Homo sapiens: one gene and its partner. The protein of the gene in region 1 purifies or fractionates together with the protein of each later gene. This does not show direct contact. Each region holds a gene or a part of one and is shown on either strand. Other genes may lie near its edges.

Evidence for each region. The genes of interacting proteins can lie anywhere in the genome.
Region 2: the proteins of INPP5E (region 1) and PDE6D purify together in Homo sapiens (affinity purification with mass spectrometry; 3 studies listed by BioGRID and IntAct, with this or other methods). This does not show direct contact.

Annotation. Positions count from the first base shown.
Region 1 is NC_000009.12:136,429,122-136,437,495, reverse strand, and holds part of INPP5E (phosphatidylinositol polyphosphate 5-phosphatase type IV), read left to right. Parts: intron 1-2,632; coding exon 2,633-2,756; intron 2,757-3,361; coding exon 3,362-3,459; intron 3,460-4,216; coding exon 4,217-4,341; intron 4,342-4,420; coding exon 4,421-4,540; intron 4,541-4,909; coding exon 4,910-5,017; exon of another isoform or gene 5,018-5,180; intron 5,181-5,510; coding exon 5,511-5,672; intron 5,673-6,378; coding exon 6,379-6,494; intron 6,495-7,082; coding exon 7,083-7,219; intron 7,220-7,688; coding exon 7,689-7,821; 3' UTR 7,822-8,374. UniProt on the Homo sapiens protein: Phosphatidylinositol (PtdIns) phosphatase that specifically hydrolyzes the 5-phosphate of phosphatidylinositol-3,4,5-trisphosphate (PtdIns(3,4,5)P3), phosphatidylinositol 4,5-bisphosphate (PtdIns(4,5)P2) and phosphatidylinositol 3,5-bisphosphate (PtdIns(3,5)P2).
Region 2 is NC_000002.12:231,770,844-231,779,217, forward strand, and holds part of PDE6D (retinal rod rhodopsin-sensitive cGMP 3',5'-cyclic phosphodiesterase subunit delta), read right to left. Parts: exon of another isoform or gene 7,880-8,374; intron 1-7,879. UniProt on the Homo sapiens protein: Promotes the release of prenylated target proteins from cellular membranes. Modulates the activity of prenylated or palmitoylated Ras family members by regulating their subcellular location.

The sequences.
Region 1 (8,374 bases):
TTGGCTTGTGGCCGCATGCTCCAGTCTCTGCCTCTGTCTTTATGTGGCCTCTTCCCTGTCTCTCTGTGTTCCCCTCTCTTTTTATAAGGACACCAGTCATTGAATTTACTGCCTACCCTAAATCCAGGGTGGTCTTATCTCGAGATCCTTAATTAAACACGTTTGCAAAGACCCCGTTTCCGAATAAGGTCCCATTCCAAGGTTCTGGGGCTCTGGGAGTGGACATGGCTTTGGGGATCACTGTTCAGCTCACCACAGTCCCCGAAGGTAGCCTCACTTCCCCGCGTCTGTGGTGCACCAGCAGGCAGGTGGGCTCAGGCCTGGAGTGAGGGCCCGTGCCTGGCGCCCCCACCATACTCTCCTCCTGTCATGGATGGAGCAGGTGCGATCACATCCAGGGCAAGACTGCTGCTTTTGTTAAAATAATTCACTGCAGGGCTTCTCGTAAAGAGTGAGATTTCTTAGTGCATCTAAAGCATCACATTTTAAAATTAGATCCGGTTGACGTAGATACACCTGTTAGAGAAAAGGACAGTCGTGTCTCAAATTTGGACCCTCAAGTCATTGTTTTCAAACAACCAGGAAACGAGGGTTGACGTGGATCCTTTAACCCAGTTCTGCTGCCTAACAGCTTCCCATTTCCAGACCTCCGGTCTGTTCTAGAATAGGAGTCGGCGCACTCTTTCTGTCAAGGGGGAGACACAGACAGTGGGGACCAAAGGGCGTCTGTGTGCCAGTGAGTCTATTAGGGACATACATTGGAACCTCGCTCTTTTTTCTTTCTCTGCCGTTCCACACAGTAAAACCCATTCTGAGTTTGCGGGCCGCGTGTGCACGGGCTGGGTCCGCCCTGTTTGAGAATGGCTGCTGGCTTTTGCCAGTGCCTTGGGGCTGCCAGGGCGGGTTAGGGGGCCTTTCCCCACCCGTTCCTTTTGCTCGGAGAGCTGGCCCAGGCTGTGGCAGCCAGCCTGAGCGTCCTCATGCAGAAGCTGTGCAGTGTCCTGGCCCTGGATGGGGGTCCGAGGCAGCTCTGCCCCTGCCCGTGTCTAGACACAGGAATGGCTGTGAGGGCCGCCCCTGGCCTGCTGTTACTAACCATGCTCTGGACAGAGCTGGGCAGACTGACCACGTGGCTGCTGGTGTGGACATGATGGGCGCTGCCGGCAAAGGGGCCGTGGGCCTCCAGCCTGGTGACCGAGGAGCCCCTGCTGGGCCCGGGATCACTTGACAGGGGTGCCCACAGGAACGCTCTCTGTCCCGAATGACCACTGTGTGAACACAGCTGTCCCGACCGGGATTGTCGACAGTTTTAGGGGTGAGGTAGCGAGGTTCCTCCCTGCTGACATGATTTAACGTGTCCAGTGAAGCTTGGTGAGCCGCAGCCAGGGTTGAAGAAGTTCTCGCGGGAGGTCACAGGAATCCGGCACTATGCTCTCGTGTCCCCTTGCGGAAGGGAACCATGTCAGAAGACGGCGTATCCAGAAGGAGCCGCACAAGTGTTACTTAGAGAGGGAGCGGGGAGGACGGCTGGCAAGCCTAGCCCACGGCGTTTCTGTATAGTCGGCGAGCTGAGAACGGGTTTTACATTTCCAAATGGTTGGAAAAAGTCAAAACCATTCTAATGATGTTTCATAGTACAAGAAAATTGTAAAATTCAGATTTCAGTGTCTGTAAATCAAGCGTCTCGGGCACACGGCTGCACCCCTTGTGTCCACATCCCCTGGTGGCTCTTGCACCACCGTAGCAGAGCCCACGGCGACAGACACTGGATGTCCCACGGAGCGGCAGGCGTGTGCGGTTGCCTCTTGACGGGTTACCAGCCCTCGTGGCAGAAGGTGCTGAGTGTGGGGAGGGGCAGGGACGTTGCTGTGCCACACGGTGTTTAACCATCTGTGTGCACCGCCGTATTAAAATCTGAAAGCATCAGCCTGGACAACGTGGCGAGACCCTGTTTCTACAAAAATAAAAAATAAATAAATAACTAGCCGGGCGTGGTGGCACTGCACCTGGAGTCCCAGCTACTCGGGAGGCTGAGGCAGGAGGATCACTTGAGCCCGGGAGGTAGAGGCTGCAGGGAGCTGTGTTAGTGCCACTGCACTCCAGCCTGGGCACGGAGTGAGACCCTGTCCCCACTAGAAACCAAAACAAGCAAACCCAAAAGTGCGTCAAAGCCACGGGGTGTCGAGGAGATGGACGCGTTTCCGTGTGGCTCGTGTGGTCTCTGTATCTTAGACCGTCCTGCCTGGTGCTGGGGCCAAAGGAGAAAGGAGGAGGACCAGCCCCTCCCCGAACAGCACCCTGTGCCCACTGCCTTGGCTTATAGTTTGGGAGCTCCTCTCTGTGGCTTTTCCAGGATCCCACCACCAAAAAGCCCAAACCGTCACCCTCTCATGCCTCTTCCCGGGAGGTAGGGAGGGGGTGTGAACCCGCTCTGGGTGTTTGTGCAACCAGGTCAGGCCTTGTGTTCCTGGAGAGCAGACAGCAGTGCCGCGGGGGCCAGGAGAGTCCTTGCTTGGGGCTGGGGGCAGCTCCTGACATTCCATGGGTTTTGCTATTGTCCCTGGGGACCTGGCCCAGACCCCCAGGGATGTGTCCTGTGCCTGGCCCTGAGCTTGGGGTCCTCCCGTCACAGGAGTTACCTGGAGGGCAGCCTCCTGGCCAGCGGGGCCCTGTTGGGGGCGGATGAGCTGGCCCGCTACTTCCCAGACCGGAACGTGGCACTCTTCGTGGCCACCTGGAACATGCAGGGCCAGAAGGTGAGTGGCTGTGGGTGGTGCTGGGCGGGGAAGGGTGGGGTGGTGCTGGACAAAGGCGGGTGAGGGGGACGGGGCAGCTCTGTGCCTCATCCTGGGGCCAGGAGGGCAGAGCCCCGAGGTGCACCCCACTGCTAACCGCAGTACAGGAGGGTGAGAGTGGGTAAGGACCCCCATCCCCCAGAGCTCCCACCTGCACCTCCCTGGCCACGTGGCTGCAGAAAGTAGGGGAGGGGGTTGGGGCAACGGGCCTGGCCGAGAATCACCTGCTCAAGGTGAGCGGGAGGGCGGCCAGCGGGGCACGCGTAGGGGTGGCTCAGGGACAGGGTGGGCAGCACGGGCTGGGGTCATGGTGACGGGAGGGTCATACAGGGGTGGTCGTTGGACAGACTCGTGCTTGGAGAGGGAAACAGGCCGAGGGCCAACGTGAGGCGTGTTTGGTGTGTCAGAGGCTGCCTCGGAGACCGGGCAGCTCCCTTTTTGGCCCTGGCCTCAGTTTCCCCTCATTCGGAGGAGTCGCTGGTACTCAAGGCACCGCAGTGGGATTCACCCACAGGCGCCTGCAGGTTTCGGGAGGAGCCGGCCCACCACATGCTCCCTCCTTCCAGGAGCTCCCGCCCAGCCTGGACGAGTTCCTGCTCCCAGCCGAGGCCGACTATGCCCAGGACCTGTATGTCATCGGGGTCCAGGAGGGCTGTTCTGACAGGTAGGGCGGCTGCAGGCCCTGCAGTGCCTGCCCAGGGGCTGCCGTCTCTGAAGCAGCTGGGTGCTGAGACCTGTGGTCATGGCTGGGCACGGGTCTGCAGTGCCTGCCCGGGGGCTGCCATCTGTGAAGCTGCTGGGCGCTGATACCCGGTTCGTGGCCGGGCACAGATCTGCAGTGCCTGCCCGGGGGCTGCCGTCTCTGAAGCTGCTGGGCGCTGAGACCCGGGTGGCGGCCGGGCACGGGCAGCCTCCACGCCTGGGTGGGAGGCATGGGTCAGATTTTTTTCCAGTGGCAACTCGGAGAGTTTAAAATCAATGAGATTTGATTTTGGTAACAAACTGTTGGCGTGCGAGAGTAGAAGGGCAGCCGGAGCAGGGCCGGGCCCCAAGGCCTCCCGGGCCCCCATGTCATGGCGGGAACAGCAGGTGGCTGCCGCCCACACAGGTGCTCTGGGGGAAGGAGTTGAGGTGGGCCCCACCTCCCTGGCCCATGAGTCCCTCAGGCGGGAGGAGCTCTGCTCACTGGGGTCTCGGCGGGGGTCCAGGGGAGCCACTCAAGTGGAACTGGGGCCTGTGGCCCCCGGCAGGTCCCAACTCTGGCCCACCAGGCCTTCTGGCAATTGCTTCTCCGCGCAAGACACCAAGGCCAGGTCGTGGGGTTTCCCTGGTAGCTCCTCGAGGGGCTCTGGGCAGCAGGTCTGGGGGTGGCGGAGCTGGGAGGCCATGTCCCCCAGCCGGCCGTGCTTCCTCCTCTGCAGGCGGGAGTGGGAGACTCGTCTGCAGGAGACGCTGGGCCCGCACTATGTGCTGCTGTCCTCGGCGGCCCACGGCGTGCTCTACATGTCGCTCTTCATCCGCAGGGACCTCATCTGGTTCTGCTCAGGTGGGCGCGGCTGGAGGGGTGGGCGCGGCTGGAAGGTGGCAGCGTCCCACAGGTGAGCTGAGGGCTGCCCCTCCCACAGAGGTGGAGTGCTCCACGGTGACCACACGCATCGTGTCTCAGATCAAGACCAAGGGGGCCTTGGGCATCAGCTTCACCTTTTTTGGCACTTCCTTCCTCTTCATCACGTCCCACTTCACCTGTAAGTTGCTTGGTGCCCGCACCGCAGGTGCTGTGTGAGAACAGCTTCCTCTCCTGACCGGGACCCTGTCCAAGGCAGGGGTCCTGACCGCTGGCTTCATCTTCCACCCAGGGCCGTGGGGTGGGCACCACGCTTGCTAAGATGCACGCCAAGGACCCCCGGCAGACCCCGGCACCGAGGGCGTGCCGTGCTGGGCCCGTGCTCTGTCCTCCGAGGCGGAAATGTCACTGGCTGGGCCCGGCAGCGGATGCCCGGTGGGGTTGCGTCTGCCGGGGGTGCGCAGTCAGGGCACAGTCCAGAGGTGCGGCGCTTTAGGGAGACTCGAGCATCCGGAACCCTGTGGTCCCTACCCCATTTCTGTTCCCACAGCAGGTGACGGGAAGGTGGCGGAGCGGCTGCTGGACTACACCAGGACTGTACAAGCCCTGGTCCTGCCCAGAAATGTGCCCGACACCAACCCCTATCGCTCCAGCGCAGGTGAGGGCGTCCACGCTGCGTGTGGGTGGTGCCGCCGTGGTTCGCACACGGGCGCCCGTCGTTTTTAGGGCAGTTCTGAAGAGGCAGCGTCCTGAGCTTTGGGAAGCGAGGGCCGAAACGTCCAGTGCCCCCAGCGCATGGCCCCTCGCGGTTCTTTAGCACGGTTAGTGGGGTGGGCGGATCCTGTCCACTCGGCGTGGCCCACTAGCCTGGGTCCTGGTCCTCGCCACTGCCCGCCCCGCCGCCTCCCCTGGCTGTGTGGAGAGGAGCAGGGACGTGGCCATCGCCTGCCATGGGCATCGTCTGCTCCTGAGGCTGCTCCAGGTGCCTTCTGGAACTGTCCCAGTGCGAATCCCACCCCTGAGGGCCCGGCCCCACCGGCTGGCGCCCAAGACCCACTTCCCCTGAGAGCCACTCCCAGGCCATGTTCTGGGGAAGGGGAAGGACCTGCCGTCCCTCTGCCTGTGCCCACACATGGCCCACTGTGCCGCAGCGGACGTCACCACCCGCTTCGATGAGGTGTTCTGGTTTGGAGACTTCAACTTCCGCCTGAGTGGCGGGCGCACAGTCGTGGACGCCCTCCTGTGCCAGGGCCTGGTGGTGGACGTGCCGGCGCTGCTGCAGCACGACCAGCTCATCCGGGAGATGCGGAAAGGTGAGGGCCTGGGGGGGCGGGCATGGAGGGAGATGAGGAGAGGTGAGGGCCTGGGGGGGCGGGCGTGGAGGGAGATGAGGAGAGGTGAGGGCCTGGGGGGCGGGCGTGGAGGGAGATGAGGAAAGGTGAGGGCCTGGGGGGCGGGCGTGGAGGGAGATGAGGAGAGGTGAGGGCCTGGGGGGGCGGGCGTGGAGGGAGATGAGGAGAGGTGAGGGCCTGGGGGGGCGGGCGTGGAGGGAGATGAGGAAAGGTGAGGGCCTGGGGGGGCGGGCGTGGCGGGAGATGAGGAAAGGTGAGGGCCTGGGGGGGCGGGCGTGGAGGGAGATGAGGAAAGGTGAGGGCCTGGGGGGCGGGCGTGGAGGGAGATGAGGAGAGGTGAGGGCCTGGGGGGGCGGGCGTGGAGGGAGATGAGGAGAGGTGAGGGCCTGGGGGGGCGGGCGTGGAGGGAGATGAGGAGAGGTGAGGGCCTGGGGGGCGGGCGTGGAGGGAGATGAGGAGAGGTGAGGGCCTGGGGGGCGGGCGTGGAGGGAGATGAGGAGAGGTGAGGGCCTGGGGGGGCGGGCGTGGCGGGAGATGAGGAAAGGTGAGGGCCTGCGGCGGGTGGGGGGAGGGTGGGCGTGGTGGGAGATGAGGAGAGGTGAGGGCCTGGGGTGCGGCGGCTGGCACAAGCTGGTCTGAGCCAGTCCGAGTGCCCATCCTGTGGCAGGGTCCATCTTCAAGGGCTTCCAGGAGCCGGACATCCACTTCCTCCCATCATACAAGTTTGACATCGGGAAGGACACGTACGACAGCACCTCCAAGCAGAGGACGCCCTCATACACGGTGAGGCCTGCCCACCGCTGCGGTGCAGAGTGCTTCCAGGGCAGGCATCTCCCACAGCCGGGAACCGATGCCTGGCGTCAGGGGTCTGAGCCTGGACGGCCTGGACTTGAAACTCAGCTCTGCACCTTGGCCTTGTGGCAAGTCCCCTTTGGTGGAGAACGGCGCCCTCTCCATGGGTGTTTTCAAGGCTGGGTGAGCCGGCTGGCACACAGGGCACCAGCCATGCCCTCGCCTCCGGCCTGCAGAGCCTCTGCCCTCTGCCCGTTGCACCCTCGCTCACCCTCCTGCCAGGCCCATGGCTGCATCTCTGGGCATGTCCCGATATCTGGATATCTGCTGGAAGCCTCAAGAAGCCACTGAGGCAGGGCAGGGTAGGAGCAGCCGCTGTCCACAGGGTCTCTCCAGCGGCGAGGGACAGGCCCTGGCCCAGCTGGCCACAGACGCCAGGCAACAAAATGGGCATGAGTGTCAGGGGTCCCAGAAGGCTTCCTTGTGGGGGGCGCTTGAGAACAGCAGGGAGGTGAGCGGGCCACGCCCCACGGCTCCTCACAAGTAACTGGACCTCCTGCCTCTGCAATCTTCCCAAAGGACCGCGTCTTGTACAGAAGCCGCCACAAGGGTGACATCTGTCCTGTGAGCTACTCTTCCTGCCCCGGGATCAAGACGTCCGACCACCGCCCTGTGTATGGCCTCTTCCGGGTGAAAGTGAGGCCGGGGCGAGACAAGTCAGTGTTCTCCCGCTCACCTTCCCCCTTGGGCCTGGGGGTCGTGCCGTCGTCCCATGAGCTAAGAGGGTCCCTGTCATCGTGGGGTTCCACTTGGGGCTTTGTTCTGGGACCTTCAGGGCTGTGTTCCCCGGGATCGGTTGGACTCATCCTGGAGCAGGAGAAGGCAGGAAGGGGAGAGGCTCTGGAAAGTGAAGAGAGGCCCAGCTGGGGGGCTGGGTGTGGCCAGCTGGAGGGACGAAGGCCTTAAGCACTCAGGCATCCGCCCTGTCCTTCCTGCGGCTCTGTCCCAGGAACAGGCCTCCGTGTGCTTAGAGGCAGGGCCAATCTGGGCCAGTGCCCACCTAACAGCCCCTCATCCTGGCCCTGGGTGTCCTCTTAAATGCCCCCTCCTCCGGGGCCGGCCCCCTCCTAACGCCCCCTCCTCCTGGCCCTGGGTGCCCTCCTAACGCCCCCTCCTCCTCCACAGCATTCCGTTGGCAGCTGGCAAATTTGATAGAGAACTGTACTTACTAGGAATTAAAAGACGGATTTCGAAGGAGATTCAGAGGCAGCAAGCACTACAGAGTCAGAACTCCAGCACCATCTGCTCCGTTTCTTGAAGTTTGCTGAACGAGGACTCACAGCTGCAACGTGGGGTGATTGTATTGATCAAAACCCACTGGGAAGGACAAAGAGTTTGCCGCCTTTCGGGGATCCGAGGGACTGTGGCGACCGTGCCTCTGTGCCAGCGTCCCAGGAAGGAAGCCAACCCTGAGCGAGCCTGTCCTCTGTGGCAGGTCCACACGGTGTGGGTGGGCAGGGCTTGGACCCCCGTCTCCATGGCAGGTCCATACAGCATGGGTGGCAGGGTTTGGACCCGCCCAGCAGCACCACGGACCCCAGCCACTCTCGGGGGCAGACGTCAGAATCCGTTCCTGAGCAGCTCCTGTGCCCTGGGGGCAGTCACAGAGCCCCCCAACACCCCCGTGCTCTGCACCAGCCTCTCCCTCCACACCCGAAGCAGGCGTCCATCTGTGTCCTCCTGGCAGCCCCTCAAACACACACCACCCCATGTCACACGGGTATCCAGAGCAAGGCTGGATCTGGGCTAGGTGACCCCTGGGGCCTCAGACCTCTGAGTGGGCCCCAGAGCCCAGCTGAGGAAGCCACACA
Region 2 (8,374 bases), on another chromosome or scaffold:
TCGGGAGACTGAGGCAGGAGAATTGCTTGAACCTGGGAGGCAGAGGTTGCAGTGAGTTGAGATCGCGCCATTGCACTCCAGCCTGGGTGACAAGAGTGAGACTTCATTTCAAAAAAAAAAAAACCCACAAAAATTAGCCAAGCATGATGGTGTGCACCTGTAGTCCCAGTTATCTGAGAGGCTGAGGTGGGAGGATCACTTGAGCCTGGGAGGTTAAGGCTGCAGTGAGCTGAGAAATTTTTTTTTTTTTTTGAGCAACCTCTGCCTCCCGGGTTCAAGCGATTCTTGTGCCTCAGCCTCCCAAATAGCTTCTGTGGGGTTTGGCGTGTTGGCCAGGCTGGTCTCGAACTCCTGACCTCAAGTGATCTGCCCACTTAGGCCTCCCAAAGTGCTGGGATTACAGGCGTGAGCCACCTTGCTCAGCCAAGCTGAGAAAAATTTAAAACTCAAAATTAATAATACAACAACAAAAGAATAAATTCTCCAGAGAGGCATCATGGTATACTGTAGAAAACATGGACTTTTAAAAAGACAAAACAAGGCTTAAATTAAGGTTCTGCCTTCGTCTAAGTGACTGCCTCGTCGATCCTCAATTCCTTAGTCTATAAAGTGAGGATAACAATGAATAGGGTTGTTGTGATAATGCAGTAATATATCAAAGTTCTTTAAAAACCGAAAAGCAGTATAGAATTATGAGATATTACTAGACCATGCTGTTTCTTCTTGTGGCTATATTTACAGTGCTAATTTATATTACAGCTATTTATGTTTCATTCTCTAAATGTTATCTAAATTCAGAGGCAATAATTGCTCTCCTTGACTCTGAATCAGTTGTATCCACAATGCACTAAACCAAACACTTCAATACTGAGTGTCTCAGAGTTGTGTCAGAAACAAAAAGGAAACAATTGGGTCACAAAAAAACTTTTTGCCGATTTTAGGTGTAGAACATATCTCAATATAAACATTTGCCAAAAAAAGTACTTGTTAAGTAAGAAAGGCTGTCACCAAATCAAAGAATTGTAGTGCTGGAAAAGGATTTGAGTATTTCTGTAGATCATCTACTGTAATACACATTTGATACATACAAAATTTCCCTCTGCAACACTCTTGACAGACAGGCATCTATCTGCTGCTTAAAACACTTTCTGGAAAATGTCTTTTTTCAGGTAATTCTACTAATTGTTAGAAACTGGCCTAAACTCTGTCACCTGTAATTTCTACCCCGCAAATCTTGTACTTCCTCTGAGAGCTACACAGCAACATTTAATTCTTCCTCTTTAGAACAGTTGTTTTTTTTTTTTAACTTTAGAAGAGAATACTCATATCTCTTGTCCAACTCTTTTCATCTTTAGGTTAAACTCCCTTCAGTTCCCCCATTATTGAATGTATGCCATGTTTCAAGTGGCCCACCTTTATACCAGCTCCACTTTCCCCTGCCTCCCTTTGCAGTAGACTAAACAAGCTTTCATGTGTCCTACGGTGAGACCATCGCCTTCTTTGCCATAAACAGTAAGCTTTAGTCCAATCCATTGAAATCTTTGTGGATATTGGACTGTAAGAAATATATTTGCTTTTCTTCCCAGCTCCAAAATTATAAGCAGGTCAAAAGCAAAAAAGAATGCTGCTCTCAGAACTTTGACAATTTGAGTTTTACGCATTCAAGCAATTATTAGAATAGTCAGGCTGCTGGAGAAGATGGCCTTAAAATTCCTTCCTATGATGCTAGGCTTTAGCTCAGGAATAGAGAGGGATAGGTCTATAAGTCAAATCCTCTCATAACACGAGGATTTGTGGATGCAGAATGCTGACAAGTGAGGCCTGGGAGGCAAAACTGAGGTCAACCCTAGTAAGAACCTAGAGCTTCCAAGCCTCAGAACCATTGCTAGTCCTTTATCAAATGTAGTGGTGATACAACTGGAATTCTCCATGACAGTTTTACCGTGTTCTGTCCCATTTCTCCAGAAGTTACTGTAATGTTTCATTATAAACCATATACACAACCCTGGCAAGAAACTTAGAAAGTCAGTAGAAGACTATAAATATCTAATTATACACTAAATTCCTTCCAAAAAACAAAAGCAGGAATGCCTGTTTAAGAATCCTAAGTAAGGCCGGGCGTGGTGGCTCACGTCTGTAATCCTAGCACTTTGGGAAGCCAAGGTGGGCAAATCACTTGAGCCCAGAAGTTCAAGACCAGCCTGGGCAACATAGTGAAACCGTTTCTCTACAAAGAAAAAATACGAAAATTAGCTGGGTATAGTGGTGCACACCTGTGCACCCAGGCACTCAGGAGGGTGAGGCAGAGGATCATCTGAGCCTGGGAGGTCAAGGCTGCAGTAAGCTATGATAGCACCAGCCTGGATGACAATGAGACCCTGTCGCAGAAAAGAAAAAAAGAATCCTAAGATAATCAATAGGACATTATATTCATTTAATCCATTCAGGATAACAATACAAACTCTCAAGAGTCCATGCATGAGGAAACAAGCTACCAATCACAATCTACATGAAACTGGGCTTTATGAGTGGTATGTCTGGTTGCTTTCCAAGACTTTGGGTTGTCAGACAAAACCTATATTATGGGAAATAATAAACCTCAAATTCATTTTTAACATTTGGCCAAGGCAACTGTACCAGGGAATACTGACTTTCAAGAGAAGTTCTACAGTCGACTTTTCTTAATATGTCTACTATTCTTATTCTTTATTCTAAGTGAGTAAATAGAAGATGTAAAGCCAACTGTTTTTTGATTGGAAGCAAAGTCAAGGATTAAGGTACTATGAGAAAGAAGATACAGGGATTCCAGGACCAAACTATGGGAGAAGAAATGTAAGAAAACAAGTGAAAGATGCTTTCAGAAACCTTCTGAGCCCAAACTCTTTTTGCTAACCTGCCATAAATTAGAATGAGATTCATTTTCTAGACAAGATAAACATGAGGTATATATCAATGCTTATTGAATCATTTATTCAGAGGCAAAATGGAAATACGATAGTTTTTCAGTAAGAAAATATAACTAGAATGAAGGCATTAGTTATATCTCAGAGAAATAAGTAGCTTTACAATCATATTAACACTATTGTCATTATTATTATTATTATTATTGAGATGGAGTCTCACTCTGTTACCCAGGCTGGAGTGCACTGGCGTGATCTCGGCTCACTGCAACCTCCACCTCCTGGGTTCAAGCAATTCTCCTGCCTCAGCCTCCCGAGTAGCTGGGATTACAGGTGCACACCACTACGCCTGACTAATTTTGTATTTTTAGTAGAGACGGGATTTCACCATGTTGGCCAGGCTGGTCTTGAATGCCCAAACTCAGGTGATCCACCCACCTCGGCCTCCCAAAGAGCTGGGATTACAGGCATGAACCACTATACCTGGCCTGTCATTATTATTAGTAATTATTAATAAAATGAATGGCAGCAGATATTACTATATGCCAGGCCCTGAACCAAACATCTTTTATGCAGTTTCATTTAATTCTCAAAACAACCCTCTGATAATATGAGATACAGATGCTGAGGCTCAGAGTCTGAGTGTTCTGTTGAGAGTCACAATAGCAGAGGCAGTAAGTCTAAACCTTGGAAGTGAGCCCATACTCTCAACCACTGTGCTATATACTCTACTGCAGTAATGTGTAAACATTTGATAGATACCAATTACTTTCTACAGACACTACACACACACACATAAACCAAATGAGAGTGCCCCTTTCCCTCAATGTTGTGAACACTGAATATTATCTTTTTTTTTTTTTGAGACTGAGTCTCTCTCTGTCACCCAGGCTGGAGTGCAGTGGTGCAATCTCGGCTCATTGCAACCTTGGCCTCCCAGGTTCAAGTGATTCTTCTGCCTCAGGCACCCTAATAATAGCTGGGATTACAGCTGTCCACACCATGCCCAGCTAATTTTTGTATTTTTAGTAGAGACGGGGTTTCACCATGTTGGCCAGGCTGGCCTCGAATCCCTGACCTCAAGTAATCCGCCCACCTTGGCCTCCCAAAGTGCTGGCATTACAGGCATGAGCCACTGTGCCTGGCATCTTTTTTTTTTTTAATAAATTTTTATTTTTATTTTTTTTGAGACAGAGTCTCACTCTGTAGCCCAGGCTGGAGTGCAGTGGTGTGATCTCAGCTCACTGCAACCTCTGCCTCCTGGGTTCAAGCAATTGTCCTGCCTCTGCCTCTTGAGCAGCTGGGATTACAGGCGTGTGCCACCAAGTTTGGCTAATTTTTTGTATTTTTAATAGAGAGGGAGTTTTGCTATGTTGGGCAGGCTGGTCTCAAACTCTTGGCCTCAAGTGATCTGCCCACCTTGGTCTCCCAAAGTGTTGGGATTACAGGCGTGAACCACTGTGCCTGGCCTAATTTTTAATTTTATTTTCGTACAGTGCCACTTTCAGGATATACATATATATTATCAATCTTTTAAATCTGTGTCAATTAATTGGGAAGAGATAGTCCATTATTATTATTATTGACAGGGTCTCACTCTGTTACCCTGGTTGGAATGCAGTGGGGCACAGTCTTGGCTCACTGCGACCTCCACCTCCCAGGCTCAGGTGATCCCCTCACCTCAGCCTCCCAGTAGCTGGGACCACAAGCATGCACCACCACACCTGGCTAATTTTTGTGTGTGTTTTTTTTTTTTTTTTGTAGAGGCGGGGTCTTGCCATGTTGCCTAGGCTGGTCTCAAACTTCTAGGCTCAAGCAATCCACCCACCTTGGCCTCCCAAAGTGCTGGGATTACAGGCATGAGCCCCTGCACCCGGAAGATAGTCTATTATTTTAACAAGGTTGAGCATGTCCTCATTTATTCATTGGTCATCTGCTTTTTCTTCTAGGAACTGCTTGTTCATATCCTTTGTCCACTTTGAGTTAAATGCTTATCCTATTGATTTGTAGGCAGCCATTTATATTCTGGATATTATAATATCTGACGTATAAATGAATTAAATAAATAAATGGAGACAATAAGCCAATATTAAAAAAAAGCTACATTACTACTCTGTATCTTATACCAAAGAAAATTCAGATGGATTAAAGATAATGAAATCATAAAAGCATAATTCATTCTTATGGAAGTCTGTCAGTTTCTTGTTAATTTAATAAAGTTATATTTTTATGTTGATGAAAAAGCTATTCAAATAGGCAAAACAGTAGATACAGACTATACTAGAAAGCTAGTATAAGAGTACTGTGACAAATGCTAGGTGCAGTGGCTCACGCCTGTAATCCCAGCACTTTGGGAGGCCTGAGGTCAGGAGTTCGAGACCAGCCTGGCCAACATGGCGAAACCCCCTCTCTACTAAAAATACAAAAATTAGCCGGGCGTGGTGGCAGGTGCCTGTAATCCCAGCTACTTGGGAGGCTGAGGCAGGAGAATCGCTTGAACTCCGGAGGTAGAGGTTGCAGTGAGTTGAGATCACATCACTGCACTCCAGCCGGGGTGACAAGAGCAAGACTCCGTCTCAAAAAAAAAAAAAAAAAAAAAAGAGTACTGTGACAAATCTGTCAGTGAAAGCAACTGAAAGTAACTATCTTTGGAAATCATAAACATGGTAAATCTATTATTAAGTGAACAAAGTAAGTTACAAAGTGATATTTACAATTCCATTTTTATAAAAAACACATTAAACATTAGCTACATTAGAAGGCTATATTAAATAATATTTACAAAGGTCACTCTAGGTGGCTGGCGTTTGTAATAGGAAAATTAAATAGAATTTTAAAAAATGCATTGCTTTTGAAGATATTCCTTCTAAACAGACATAAAGCTGGTTAAGCTTCTGGAAAGAAGGGACTGTAAGTTATTCATTTTTGTATCCTTCAAGTGTAGAGTGCCCTATACATAATAGTCACCCAACAGACCTTTGTTGAAGGAACGAAATGGGAAACGTGGGATTTACAAACATCAATCTCTATGTCAGCTGCTTAAAATAATCAAATCCAAAATATTTGCAGGAGAATCATATTGTTCCCCAAGTAACATTTCATTCATAACATTAATTTACAATTAGGAAATGTTATGCTTTTAACAAACAAGAAAGAAATGCAAGGTTCTTAATGTGTATGAGAGCCTTGCATTTCTTGAGAGGTAGTATAGCGCCACAGTCCAGTATAGCTCTTAACCACTATGCTATATTACCTTGTATGGATCTAGGGATCCAGGAAAATACAAATCGAAACAATGTGTTGTCCAAACTGGCAAAAATAAAAAAGATTGACCTAGTCAACGTGGAAAACTGAGTACTATCAACACTGTTGGCAGGAGATCATAATGGTGCTCTTTTTGTAGTGATAAACTCTTCTCACAAAAACAGATACTCTGAAAGAGGTAGGGTGAGATGGGGTGAAGGTGATACAAGAATAAAATCTTATAAGATTTTGTTTTTGAAACAACTGATGGCAAATACAAAGCTTCTACTGAATTCACTCAGACCATGCCTAATTTATGCATACAGTATTCACTTTTATGCAGTATCTTTAAATTTTTTTTTTTTAGAGTTGGGGGTCTCGCTATGTTGGCCAGGTTGGTCTTGAACTCCTGGCCTTGAGCAATCCTCCCACCTAGGCCTCCCAAAGTGCTGGGATTACAGGTGTGAGTCACCATGCCCAGCCAAGTCCTCATGTTTCTATCTACTATGGGCATATGGGCAAGCTTCCATGTGAACAAAAGGGGCACATATTTGTAGGGACCTTAAACACACATATTATGTTAGTCACAGACCATTCTATTGTAAACTATACTAAATCATATTATAAAGCTATAATAATTCAATCAAATGTGTATAGGTACAAGAAGAGACAAATAGATCAATGAAACAGAAATAATCCAAAAAAAAACCTATGTCTTATGAAAATTTAGTATATGACAAGGATGGCATTTCAAAACAGTGAGGAAAAGATGGACTAACTACTTAGTAAATAGTACTGGAACTATTGGCTATCCAAACAGCAGAAGTACTTAGATGTCTACCACATACCAAATGTGTAAATACGTTCCAGGTGGATTAAAGAGCTAAACATTGAAAAGAGAAGAAAAGATAGGATATTTAGTTAATCTTGGGATAAGAAAGATCTTTTTAAACAAGATACAAAATGCAAAAGCCAGATGGCAAATATTAATAAATTTGAGGCCAGGCACGGTGGCTCATGCCTGTAATCCCAGCACTTTGGGAGGCAGAGGCAGGCAGATCATGAGGTCAGGTGTTTGAGAACAGCTTGGCCAACATGGTGAAACCCCATCTCTATTAAAAATACAAAAATTAGCTGGGCATGGTGGCATGCACCTGTAATCCCAGCTACTCAGGAGGCTGAGGCAGGAGAATTGCTTGAACCTGGGAGGCGGAGGTTGCAGTGAGCCAAGATTGCGCCACTGCATTCCAACTTGGGCAACAGACCAAGACTCCGTCTCAAACAAATGAAATAAAATAAATTTGAAATGACAATTTAAAAATTCTGTTCAACAAAAAAGGAGACAATACATTGAAAGAAAATATTTGCAAAATACATAATAGGCAAAGGATTGATATTACAATATGTAAAGAACATCTACAAATAAGAAAAATAAACAATAGTAAAATGGGCAAAAACAAAATTAACAAACAATTTACAGAAGAAAAAGAAATGGCCAAATAGAAGAGATGTGCAACTTCTCTAATAATAACAAGAATAACACTGGCTAAAGCATAATGCTCACTGTGGATCAGGTGCTTTTCTAAATGCTTTAGATATCAACTCATTTACTCTTACAGCCCCATGAGATAGGTACTATTATTTTCCCCATCTTACAGATAAGAAAATTGAGGTGAGGTTAAAGCAGTTGCTCAGGGACACACAACTAGGAGCGCAGGGCTGGAATTCCAATGCAGGCAGTATAGAGACATAGTCCAGTATAGCTCTTAACCACTATGCTACATTACCTTTTCATGGATCTAGGGATCCAGAAGAATACCAATTAAAACAATGTATCATTTGTTATCCAAACTGGCAAATAAAAAAGACTGACCTAGTCAACGTGGAAAACTGAGTACTATCAACACTGCTGGTGGGAGAACATAATGGTGCTCTTTTTGCAGTGATAAACTATTCTTACAGAAACAGATACTCTGAAAGAAAGTTCAGAAAATCTATTTACCCAATAAAAGGTGGACAATAGTCAGTTTCTTACTAAAACATTAATTTTACTTTTTCCTGAAGGTAGTAGCATATCTTAACATTCCTGCTTTTCTTTTCTCTCTTACTCCACAAATGCCCAGTAAAGGCTACCAGAGGATGAGCACGCCACTGCTCTCATGCTAACTTTTTGATGTGGCTGCTTCCCTTGTGCTTCAGGATTTAATCAGCTCAGGTCAAGCTTTTCCCAA